Linked DNA regions of Homo sapiens: region 1 is linked to region 2. The links come from fine-mapping of genetic effects on gene expression. A gene starts in region 2. The other region holds a variant in brackets. All regions are shown on one strand. Distances are from middle to middle. Region 1 overlaps CACNA1E (calcium voltage-gated channel subunit alpha1 E). Region 2 holds the start of CACNA1E (calcium voltage-gated channel subunit alpha1 E).

Evidence for each region.
Region 1: its variant is fine-mapped to the expression of CACNA1E in whole blood (GTEx, PIP above 0.99).

What each region holds. Positions count from the first base shown.
Region 1 is chr1:181,502,287-181,507,654 of GRCh38, reverse strand. All of the region lies in intron 1 of CACNA1E (calcium voltage-gated channel subunit alpha1 E), which reads right to left. Among named protein-coding and RNA genes, the nearest start is that of CACNA1E, 21 kb to the right of the region's middle. RefSeq lists enhancers at 2,161-2,390, 2,811-2,930. The variant C/T (reference allele first, on the strand shown) is at 2,853.
Region 2 is chr1:181,481,062-181,486,429 of GRCh38, reverse strand. It overlaps CACNA1E (calcium voltage-gated channel subunit alpha1 E), which reads right to left and starts at 2,913. Exons shown (of 48, transcript NM_001205293.3): 1 at 2,420-2,913. The coding sequence starts at 2,685. RefSeq lists enhancers at 1,066-1,195, 2,158-2,681, 2,682-3,206, 4,009-4,138, 4,190-4,722 and silencers at 3,559-3,688, 3,729-3,858.

The sequences.
Region 1 (5,368 bases), 21 kb before region 2:
TCAGTGCTGAGCCTGCAGGCAAGACAGGTCCTGGCAGCCATGTGCCTCCGAGGCCTCCCCACTCACAATACCCACTTGGACCATGGCAGCTCCTCCACTGCCCCTGACTCTCCACTCACAATATCCCCTTGGACCATGGCAGTTCCTCCACTGCCCCAGCTCCCTGCTTCCACACCCATACCTGCATTTTCCTAGCCAGTTAACCCAAGTATATTGCTCCCTATAAGGACCTTTAAGCTCAACTAGTCCAGAATGTCCAAGGGCAGATATGTGAGGTTTGTGGGGACACAGGCTAGCTCAGGAAGGTGTAGCCAACACCACCGGAAGATGCTCCAGGCAGCGGAATGGCTCTTGGCCCAGGTGCTGATGAGTCAAACTCCCAGTGACTGGCCAGGTATCTGGGTGGCTGAGAATTCATGAGGTCTTGATGGCTGGTGCTACCCAAGGCCCTAAAGTCTAGAATCTAAAGGTGGGAGTTTGGTAATTCACAGGTTCTAAGAAGACCCTATTCTCACTTCCTCTCCAGCCAAATCCTCTTCCCACTATCTGATGTGAGGCCCATTCACAGCAGCAATCTTCTGGCTTAAAAATATTTTTTTTTTTGCTTTACATTTTTAAAATTGTTCAGATATATATGCCCTTGAGAGGGATGTCCCTTTCAGCCTTATAGGGCATCTAGACCTCAGGATGAATTCATGGCTGCGGTAATGAAGAACCTGCAGTGAGAATGTGGAGATTCTGTGTAACTGTGGGCTAGGTGAAAGAATGGATAGTGGCAGGGAAATCTCAGGGGAGGTGAGCAGAAGAGACCATCCAAGTCTGCCTAGGCCCCAGCCACTCTCCCTTACAGCCCTGTTCTTTAAACTCTTTTCCACTTCCCTTTCTGAAGAAAGCACAAAAAAGAGGCATTTACATCTAGGTGCTTCTGCCACCACATGCAATGGCGTTTCTTCTCCTTTCCAGTCATACATCAAGACCAAGCTGAAATGCCACCTTGTCAGTGAAAGTTTCTCCCCGTGCCCCACAGCTCTTTGAATTGTGTGACTGTATTATTTCTTCTCCTATTTAAATCAAGAAACTATATCTTGAAAGCAGGAGTTTTGCTCATGTCTCTACTGGCAGTGCTTAGCAGAGCCCATGGTATATAGTAGGAGCTTAGTCAATGTTCAATGCAGGTAAGAATGAACATGAGGCATTCACTAAGGAGCCATTACAAAGACAGGGCTTTGCTCACCCACTCTGGCCTGAGCCATGGCTCCTGCTCACTCCCACCCTTGCAGGCTGCCTCCGAGGCACCACTCCCATTTCTTCCCGACAGCAAAACTTCACACCCCAAAGCAATGGCTCTGCTACATCCCCAAAGTGAAGAGCCTAGACGGCAAATAACACCCACCCACCAGTCAAGCTAGTGCCCCTCAACCTGGCAGACTGGACAAAGACATGACTTAGAAAGGTCAAAGGGAGCTCCGAGTCGCCACGGCCTCAAAGACCATCACCCTTCATGGCAACCACAATCAGGGACAAGATGGAAGTCTGTCCAGGACTCTGACTCTCTGTTCTAGAATTCAGTGACACTCATTACACTCTGTGCCTGACACTGTGCATATTTTAGGGAAGAATATCTATCCCTGGTATCCAGATTGCTTGTGTTTTGAAATCTTGAACAAATGGAGATGATGGGGCAGTAAGGACTGGGAGCCCCAGGGCAGGACCTTGCCTGCCTCACTCACCACTGTACTTGGCACACAGTGGGGCCCCGGTAACTGTTATTTTATTAATAAATTAATATTCAATTGATAAATGAATCATACAGGGAAACTAGAGCCAGAGGTATCCTTACAAAAGGTACCCACACTCTCCACACTGTATACCCATTTGAACTTTTTATACTGTCCACTGTAGACACACATGACCTATTTAAAAAAGAAAATAAACCAGCATACATGGAAGATCCCTTTCATGTTTAAAAAAAAAAAGAGAAGGCCAGGTGCGGTGGCTCACGCCTGTAATCCCAGCACTTTCAGAAGCCGAGGTGGGCAGATCACGAGGTCAGGAGATCAAGATCATCCTGGCTAACACGGTGAAACCCCATCTCTACTAAAAAAAATACAAAATGTTAGCCAGGCATGGTGGCACGCACCTGTAGTCCCAGCTACTCAGGAGGCTGAGGCAGGAGAATGGCGTGAACCTGGGAGGCAGAGCTTGCAGTGAGCTGAGATCGTGCGACTGCATTCCAGCCTGGGCAACACAGCAAGACTCCGTCTCAAAAAAAACAAAAACAAAAAAAAAGAGAAGGGAGAGAACAAGAAAAAATTCTGTCTTGCTGGAAGGATGATGAGTCTTCTCTCGGTAGCAGGGTTATTTTCACTTTCTTCTTTACTCCTCTAACCATTTTCTGAGTGTTCAAATGAGCATGTGTTCATTTATCACTACAAAATCAATTAAAGCTATATGTATCCTGAAAAGAACAAATCAACACAAAAACCCATCCCAACCTGAGAGTGAGGAGGAATGCGATGGCCAGAGAAATCAGAAAAAGACTTCGGAGAGGATTAAATGCAAGAGAATGAAGGGACCTGGCCAAAATGAGGAAATGACCATGAAACCACTTTGAAACTTGCAAAAGACATCTTCCTTCCTGCCTTCCCTCCTGTACCAGCTCACTGCTCACTAGAGGCCTCATTTCATAAACTTTACTGGCAATCTCCTCAAACACCCCTTCACTCCTCGTTCCCTCTGAGCCCATTAATGAGGACCTGTGTTGCTCCAACTCTCTTTCTAGTCTAGCAGTTTCAAGACAATCATTAGGGAAATGATAAAAATAGGTTCACTTATTGATTTATCTCCTTTAC[C/T]CAATGCTCCTTCCTTTGAATGGTTGACTTGTTTCCTTAGCAACATGGCTAATTTGAGCAGCACGACGTGGCCTGCACACCTGCCATTTGTTCATTTCCTTCTTGAAGCACAGAAAGCTGGGGCAAGGGTGGTGATGCTGGTTCTGCTGTCACCGGAGCCCTGGGGGCCTGGCCTGGAGCTGAGCTCTTCATCTGCCTGAGCCTGAAAAGCCTCCTCATCATCACCTCTCAGGTACAGATCTGTAGGTACATGCTTGGGAAGGACTTAGGCCTCAGGCAGTAAATATTGGGTGTCCCCAGGCAAACATGCATCTCTATCACCACCAGGGGGCTCATCCTGAAGACCTCTGTACTTAGCTGTCTCCTCCCAGAGCCTATGACATCCGAACACTAAGAAGGCCATGCTCTGACAGGCAGGCAGATAGAATGCTGTGCACTCTCCCAACTTCAGCCTAATGCAGAATATGCTTTTGTGGGGAGCAGTCGGTGGGCACTCAGGCACTTCCTGGAAACTCCTGGGGGGGTATAGAAGAGTCCACAGTCTGAGGGGAGGCATTCCTCAGCCTCCTTTACCCATTTCCACCCCTCACCCCAGACCCTACAGGAAGACCTGTCTCCTTTTCTCCCTTCAGTCTCATGTTTTTGGATGTCTAAATCCAAGAGATGTAACAGCCTCAGAGGATGGCATGGACACCTTCATGCATGTCTTTCCACCTCTTCTTCATGTGCACATAAATATCATCCTAATAAGTGGACTTTGACTCAAAGACAGTAACAGAGAAAGAGCCTTAACTAGTCTGTGATTCCCTATTAGCATGACACCAAATAGACATTTTACATATGAACAGGAATGAAATACAGCTATCCAAGCCTTCCGTGTAACTTCAGAATCTTCTTCAAGACCTGGAATGCAATGGAAAAAATGTAGCTTGGTAAAGGAAACCAGAGCCAGGCCTCCGACTGCAAAAGCTGTCCCAACACAGTACTCAAGAGTCAATGAAGGGTTATGACCATCCATTCCCACAGAACCAAACAAGAAATACAAAAGGACTGAAGCCTAAAATGATACCGGAATCTGAACTCCCTCTGAAAACTGTAAAGTGTTGCACAAATACAGTTACTTTCAGTATCCTACTAACTCAATCTTTCAGCATCTACTGTGGCTCAATACTTTGGGGAAAGCATCTGTTGGTGGTTACAGCCTCCAGCCCTCAGGAGTGGGCTGGCTGGCTGTAGCCATGGACTGACACAGAGGAGACCAACTCCAATAAAGGATTTAAAAGAAAATTATGGTAATGGGCCTCCAGGAAAAGAGCAAAGACATTTGGCCCAGAACCTCCTGAGAATATGGAAAGCGCATCCAAACACCAGTCCCCAGAGGAGGATTTATGAAGCTGATGGCTCTGATGCAATCTCTCCCAGTGATTAGAAGGGATATTAATCACACCCCAGGCCAGGGCTAAGAACAGGAGGGGTTGAACCATCACAGAAGTCTGGCTCCAGTTCCCACAGACCCTGATGGAAATGCAGTGAGATCATGCTGGTGAGATCATATGACCCTCGTCTGAGCCGACTGAGAAAGATACATCTGTCCTGGAGGGACGAGTAATGCCGAAGACATAAGACCTTGTGCCTAAAACCCAGACATAGCAATAGTTATGACCATCACTTCAACAGTGTGTCTGCATCCCTCATGGTCTTCCTCACCTTCCTAGAAGCAGACATTCTTACAGAAATCTCTGCTTCCTAACCTGTCTACACAAAAGGAAAATTCAAACCAGCCCTGTTCAAACAGGCCTGGCCTGGCCAGGCACAGTGGCTCACGCCTGCAATCCCAGCACTTTGGGAGGCCGAGGCGAGTGAATCACTTGAGGTCAAGAGTTCAAGACCAGCCTGGCCAACATGGTGAAACACTGTCTCTGCAATTAATACAAAAATTAGCCAGACATGGTGGTGGGCACCTGTAATCCCAGCTACTTAGGAGGCTGAGGCAGGAGAATAGCTTGAACCCAGGAGATGGAGGTTGTGGTGAGCCGAGATCATACCACTGCACTCCAGCCTGGGGGACAGGGTGAGACTCTGTCTCAAAAAACAAAACAAAACAAAAAAAGAACAAGCAAGCAAAAACAGCCCTGGCCAGTCCAGCTCCCTTCCTGGAGGGATGTTTCACATTTTCTCCAGATCATGGCATAAAGTAGAAGTCAGTATGAGGTAAAAAGATGGAGAGCCAAGAGGGCTTTCTAATGCCTCTCAGCAAGCCGCTCCACCCTGCCCAGGTGAGAGGGCCCAGGTTAAGAGATAAGCTATGGTGCAAGGAGTCTTGGCCCAGGGCTCCTTCTGGACTTCTTTGCACTCACTCCTATGGCTGCCCTGGCAGGACATGGCAGCCCAAAAGAGACCAGCCCAGAAAAGGGAATAAACAGACAGAACTATTCCTGGAGATTCTGAGGAGCTATAGATGAACTTTTCAATTCTCTGAAAATAAATGTTAACCTTCCAAATTTATCAATATATGG
Region 2 (5,368 bases):
ACGTGGTCACCACCAGAGGGAATATATTAGTCAATTACATTGTACATGGTGTATTTTATATTTTCCAACAGGGCTCCACTAAACACCTTAGCAGATGTTCCCTGAACACTGTTACCACAGCCTACATGCTGTAGAACCACTGTGAAATTTCCAACTATGCAGACAAAAGAGACCATTGGGACAGGGCTCGGGGCCAAGGCACTGAGCATGATGCTGAAATCAACTCCCTCGAGAGTCTCCCGTTTGACTCTCTTTGGTCCATTTTTGGCCAAAGACAAGGAAAGGGAGGAGTAAGACTCACAGCCGCACCTTGCGCGCTCGCAACGCCTGGTGGAAAGGCGGTGTCTTTGCAGCGGAAGAGAAAACGTGAAAAAAGGTGACCACGTGGTGTAGGAAACGTGCCTGGTTTCTCAGCTCCAAGGCTGGGCCCGGCCAGAAGTACCCGAGGTGCTGAACCCGGGTAACTGGGGAGCCCCGGGCCGCCGGGAGTTTCAGCGGCGCTGTCCGAGGTGCCAACGATGGCTGCTGGCACACTTTGCCACCCGCGGGGCGGTTGGGCGGCTTTGTCTACCGCAAAGAAACGGGAGGGCGCCTGTCTGAATAAACACGCCCCTAAGAGAGGGGCACAGCAAGGCAGCACCTGGTGGATGGGAAGATTTAGAGAACCGTAGAAGCCGAGTGAGAAAGGAGGGCCCAGCTGGGAAATCCGTAGACTGCCTAGAGGAATATTTGCAGCCGCAGCACACAACACAATGAGATCTGTCCGCTTTGTGCAGCGCACCGGCAGGCGTGACTGCAGGGACCCGACCCCTCCCCCGCCCGAAACCTCCACCCTAGCTAGATACGTTCAACTCAGGCAATGGATGGCCTGGGATCACTCTGTGAGAGTGGAGCAGGGGAGCGGGATGCAGAGAGGAGAGAGGGAGAAGCCCAGCCGGGGTTGCTGTGGGAGGATGCGAACAGCAGCAGGAAGAATATCTGCTTAGAGATGCTCCTTCGTTTCTAATGAGGGGGTGCTGCCTAGAAGCACCACGCGCCAGCCAATCACCGAGCTGCTGAGGCAGGGAACTAGAGAAGAAGGGGAAGGCCAGAGACTGGGGTTGGGGGAGTAGGGAGATGCCCAGGCCCTGGGGGAAATGAGCCGCGTGTCTGGCTAATACTAGAGACCCAAGGCAGCTCCAGCTGCCTCACTGCTGCACACCTGGACGGTGGGGGTGGGAAAGAGGGAGAATAGGGGAGAAAAGAAGGGGCCTCCATTGCAGATGCATCCCTCCCAAATCTCCCTCCCAAAGTCCCATGTCTCCAACCCCATCCCCATATTTAACGCCAGACCACTAGCTTGCCTCCTACTAATCCCCTTCACTGCCTCACCACCCCCAATTCCCAATGGCCTTGCCAGGCGTCCAATCCTTAGTGAAGAACAAGGCAGTGAGCTGCCTAATCAGCAGTCTGCATTTGGTGCACTTGATTAAACCTGCAAAGAAGCTCCTTCCATGCCTGTTCACCCTGACACCACCACCATCAGAGATGGCCCCCACCAGTGCTTTGGGGAGAGCAGTTCCTTTGGAGCTAGGGAGAGAGAGACTGCATGCACACCTCTGGCCTCAGCGGATGAATTCAGGCCCAGCCGATCCACCTGGATCCTGGATACTGGGAGAGCAATCAGCTGGGTCAAGCACTAAGAAGCAAGAGTACCCAACCAAGGACCAAGGACAGGATGGGCCTGATGAGCTGCTCTTTCTTGGCTGAGAGGAGAACTCCAAGTTTGAGCTCCTTGGGCTGTGGCAACAGAGATCACCTCCCCTGACAGACACTCACTCATGCCACTTTCAGTGGAACTTAAACTTAAGTCCCTAGAGTTAGCTGAGTCCCCACCCAAAAGCCTGTTTTATTTATTCATTTGTCTATCTGTACACAGGGTTTTGGCCCTGGGAACTTCTGAACTGATAAATCCCCTCATGGAGCCTTGACTTCCCTACAGGAAGACAGTGCGGTGTCTCCTGGTTGGTGGGGATACGGGCAGAGTGGCTGGCTTAAAGAAAGGAAAATGAGAATTAATTATGAAAGGAAGCATTGGGGCAACCCAATCTATGTAGAGGGCGGCATGTGAAGGGAGTAGGGGTGGGGAGGGGGCTGGGAATCAGACAAAGCCCAGCCCAGAAAGGGATGCACCCAGGGACACTAAAGATTTCCACATAGGAAAAATAAAAAACCAAAAGTCTTACCTTGAAAAACACTAGTGCCCAAACGGGTCTCCACGGCACCAAGCTTGCCCCTTAGATGCACCGAAGAGTGTGCTTCAGCAAAGGGGCAAATTGGCACCAGGAAGGGGTGGGGGATACATTCCATGCTAGGTACCCCCCTTCACCCGAAGAAATGCAAAGGGGGAGAGGGAGTTATGGTGGGCAAGAAAGGATATGGCCAATCGATGAGCTTCTTGGCATATTTCCTGACAATGTTATCTTCTCCGAAGATGAACAGGGATCTGTTGACGGTGAAACAGTTCTGCCGGACGGGAATGGGGTTGTACAAAGCCATAGTCCGCGCCCTCTGTGCTTTCGTCTGCTTGTAGGCGGCCGCCTGCCCCGAGGCCGGCACGGGGGTTCCTTGCCGGTTCCTGCTCTGGTCCGAGTCTCCATCGCCGGACCCTGGCCTGGCGACCACCGCCTCCCCGAAGCGAGCCATCCTGAGGTTTAAACAGACAGAAGACACACAAAGGTGATCGCGGCCGAACACCCGCACACAGCAACAAGCAGAAAGACACACGGAGACTCAGAGCCGCATCCAGACAAGCACGGGGACCACCGCCTCTGGGGAGCTCCGCGAGCTCTTCGGAGAGGCAGCAGCAGCAGCCCGCCGCTGTGAACTGTTGAATCTAAATGCAACCTCTGCGAAGCTCCATTCCTCAAGAAGGAAAAAAAAAAAAAAGAAAAAAGAAAAAAAAAGCGGGTGGTAGGGCTTGGGGGTGCCCAGTTTCTGGAGGAAAATATTTTTTTCAAAATGCCAGTGTGTGGTGGTGTTCAGGGACCAGAGAGGAGAGGGGTGGAGTAGGCTGCTCTTCAAACATAGCTCCTCTTCTGGCAGACGCACCACCTAGTTCAGGGAGAGAGGCAGGCACCGGCCCGCTAGGTAACAGTTTGGTGATTTATTGGTTGGGGGAAGGGGTGGGAAGGAGGGGAAAATGAAAACAAAAGAACTTTAAAAAAAAATAAACAAAGACGAGGACGGGGTTACGATGACATGCTTTATAACGCCAGCCCCTGCAAGTCCATCTAAGAAATTCCACCGCGAAGACTTGGGTCTTTATATCTGCCAGCAGAGACGCATCCAAAGGTTGGAGAAAGAGGGAGGGAGGTGGGGAGAGCGATATTGAGGTTCCTGCGTAAACCGCAATGCCCAAAATCTCAAAATAAGAAGTCGATCCAAGCGAAAAGGGACAAATGACTTCAAAGCTCCTGCGCTTGGGCTAGAAGTTGAGCAGCATCCAGAGAGCAGCGAAGCCTGAGTGCCAGCATCCGCCCGGAGCGCTCGCCACCGCCGCCTCCCCGGATCAGCATGCAACAGCGATCCGCGGCTGCGCCGCCGAGAGGGCGGGAGTGCGAGCGGGCGGGCGGCGAGCACCGGCGGGCGAGGAACAGGTTGCAGCCGAGCCTCGCGGCGGCCTGGCACCACACTTGTCCACAGACCGAACTTCCTCACTAACGGCTCAGTCTCCCTCTTCCCCGCAGGCAGCGCCCTCGGCGGAGCACTGGAGAAGATGCGGAAGGAGAATGGGGAGGCGAGGCAGAGGACAGCGAGCGGCGCGCAGAGGCGCAGCGAGGCGCGCAAGAGCGCTGGGAGAAGCGGGGGAGGAGCTGGCCAGGCGGGAGGGGCGGGGACGCAGCCGGAAGGCTGGAGGTTCCTGGAAGGTGAGGCTGGCTTGCCTTCTTGATTTATGTGGCCAAAGGGTAGCAGCCACCTCTGCAAAGGTCCAGTGAAGAGTCCCCTTTCCCCCAAGTAATGCCGAGAAGAGAGAGGCAGGTGCAGCCAGCGATGCGGCGGAGTCTCCGCAAGAGAGCGAGGGCCTGGCGTGGGGCGCACACGCACGCGCGTCTTGGGTCCCTGCAGAGAGGTGTCCCCAGTGCTGTGCCCTGTTCGGTGCCGGGAGCGGTGCCACGGGCCCGCCGCCGCCCTAGTAAGGTGTCGGGGCCTTTGCGCGCCTAGCGCCATGGCCGCGTCGCCGCTCCTCCGCACCTCCCAGGCTCCACGAACACGGCCAGGCATTTCCAAGTAGAGGGCAGAACCCTCTCCCCATCTCCCCACTTAGCACCTGGGAGGCCCCGTGGAGGAGGCTAGGACCTCTGGGGGTTCCACACTCTGCTGGTGGTGCTGGCTCCTGGCGGGAGCTTCTGCCCTCACGGGGCGGCCTCCCGGTTCCGCTGTAGGAAAGCCCTGCCCGACGTCTCCTGGAAGGGCCCTCCATGGTGAGTTATGGGCTAAAACTACCCTTCTCGAAATGCGAACAATCAGAAGGATCCTCCCGCCCCCCATCCTTTACTCCCAAATAAGCTCCACGGACTTTCTCAAACCCAACCCATTAATGTAGAAAAAAAAAAAAATAGAATTGGTATCTGAGCTGCAGAGGTGGGAAAGGTGGACTCCAAGCCCCAGGGAAAGAGCTCCTGTTTAGCCGCCAAGCCCTTCCCCACAGGTGACTGGTGGTTTGAACTGAGGGCAGGGACCAGCTGTCCCCTCCCATGTCCACACTAGCTGGGGCACACCGTCTTCTGTGTTTTCCTGCCTTGGCTCAACACATAGGCCTCTCCAAATCCTTCCAACCCGAACAATGGAAGGGAAGAAGGAAAGGAGGGGCTGAGGAAGGAAACAGACACTGACCAAAGCCCAGAGGTTGGAAACCATGGGTGAGTATGGCTTCACGCCTGTGAAGTGAGATTAACTGTTGAGAAGTGAGGTGATGTCTGAGTGCATGGCATGTGTGTTTCTACGGGTATGTGTCTGTCTGTGGGCAAGGCCCTGTGAGCACTGACATGTGTCTGTTGTGTGAGAATGTATGTGAGAGTGTGTGTGTGTGTGTGTGTGTGTGTGTGTGTGTGTAGGAAAATTCTCTACTGGAAATCCAAAGGAATGGTCTCAACATGTCCAGCCTGCTGCCCTTGGGGAAGGCATTTGACCTTTGGATTCAGGGGAGCCCATTTCAGGTGAAATTACTATTCAAGGTGAGTCAGCTGTAATTGTTACTTTGATTTCACATTACTGCCTTACTCTGTCCTTCCTCCTGCTTTAATCAGAGGGTCCTCTTCTGTCTGAATACCTAGTCAGTCGTGAAACGGAGGGAGGGTGGTGCTGTGAACCATGAAGTCCCATCAGC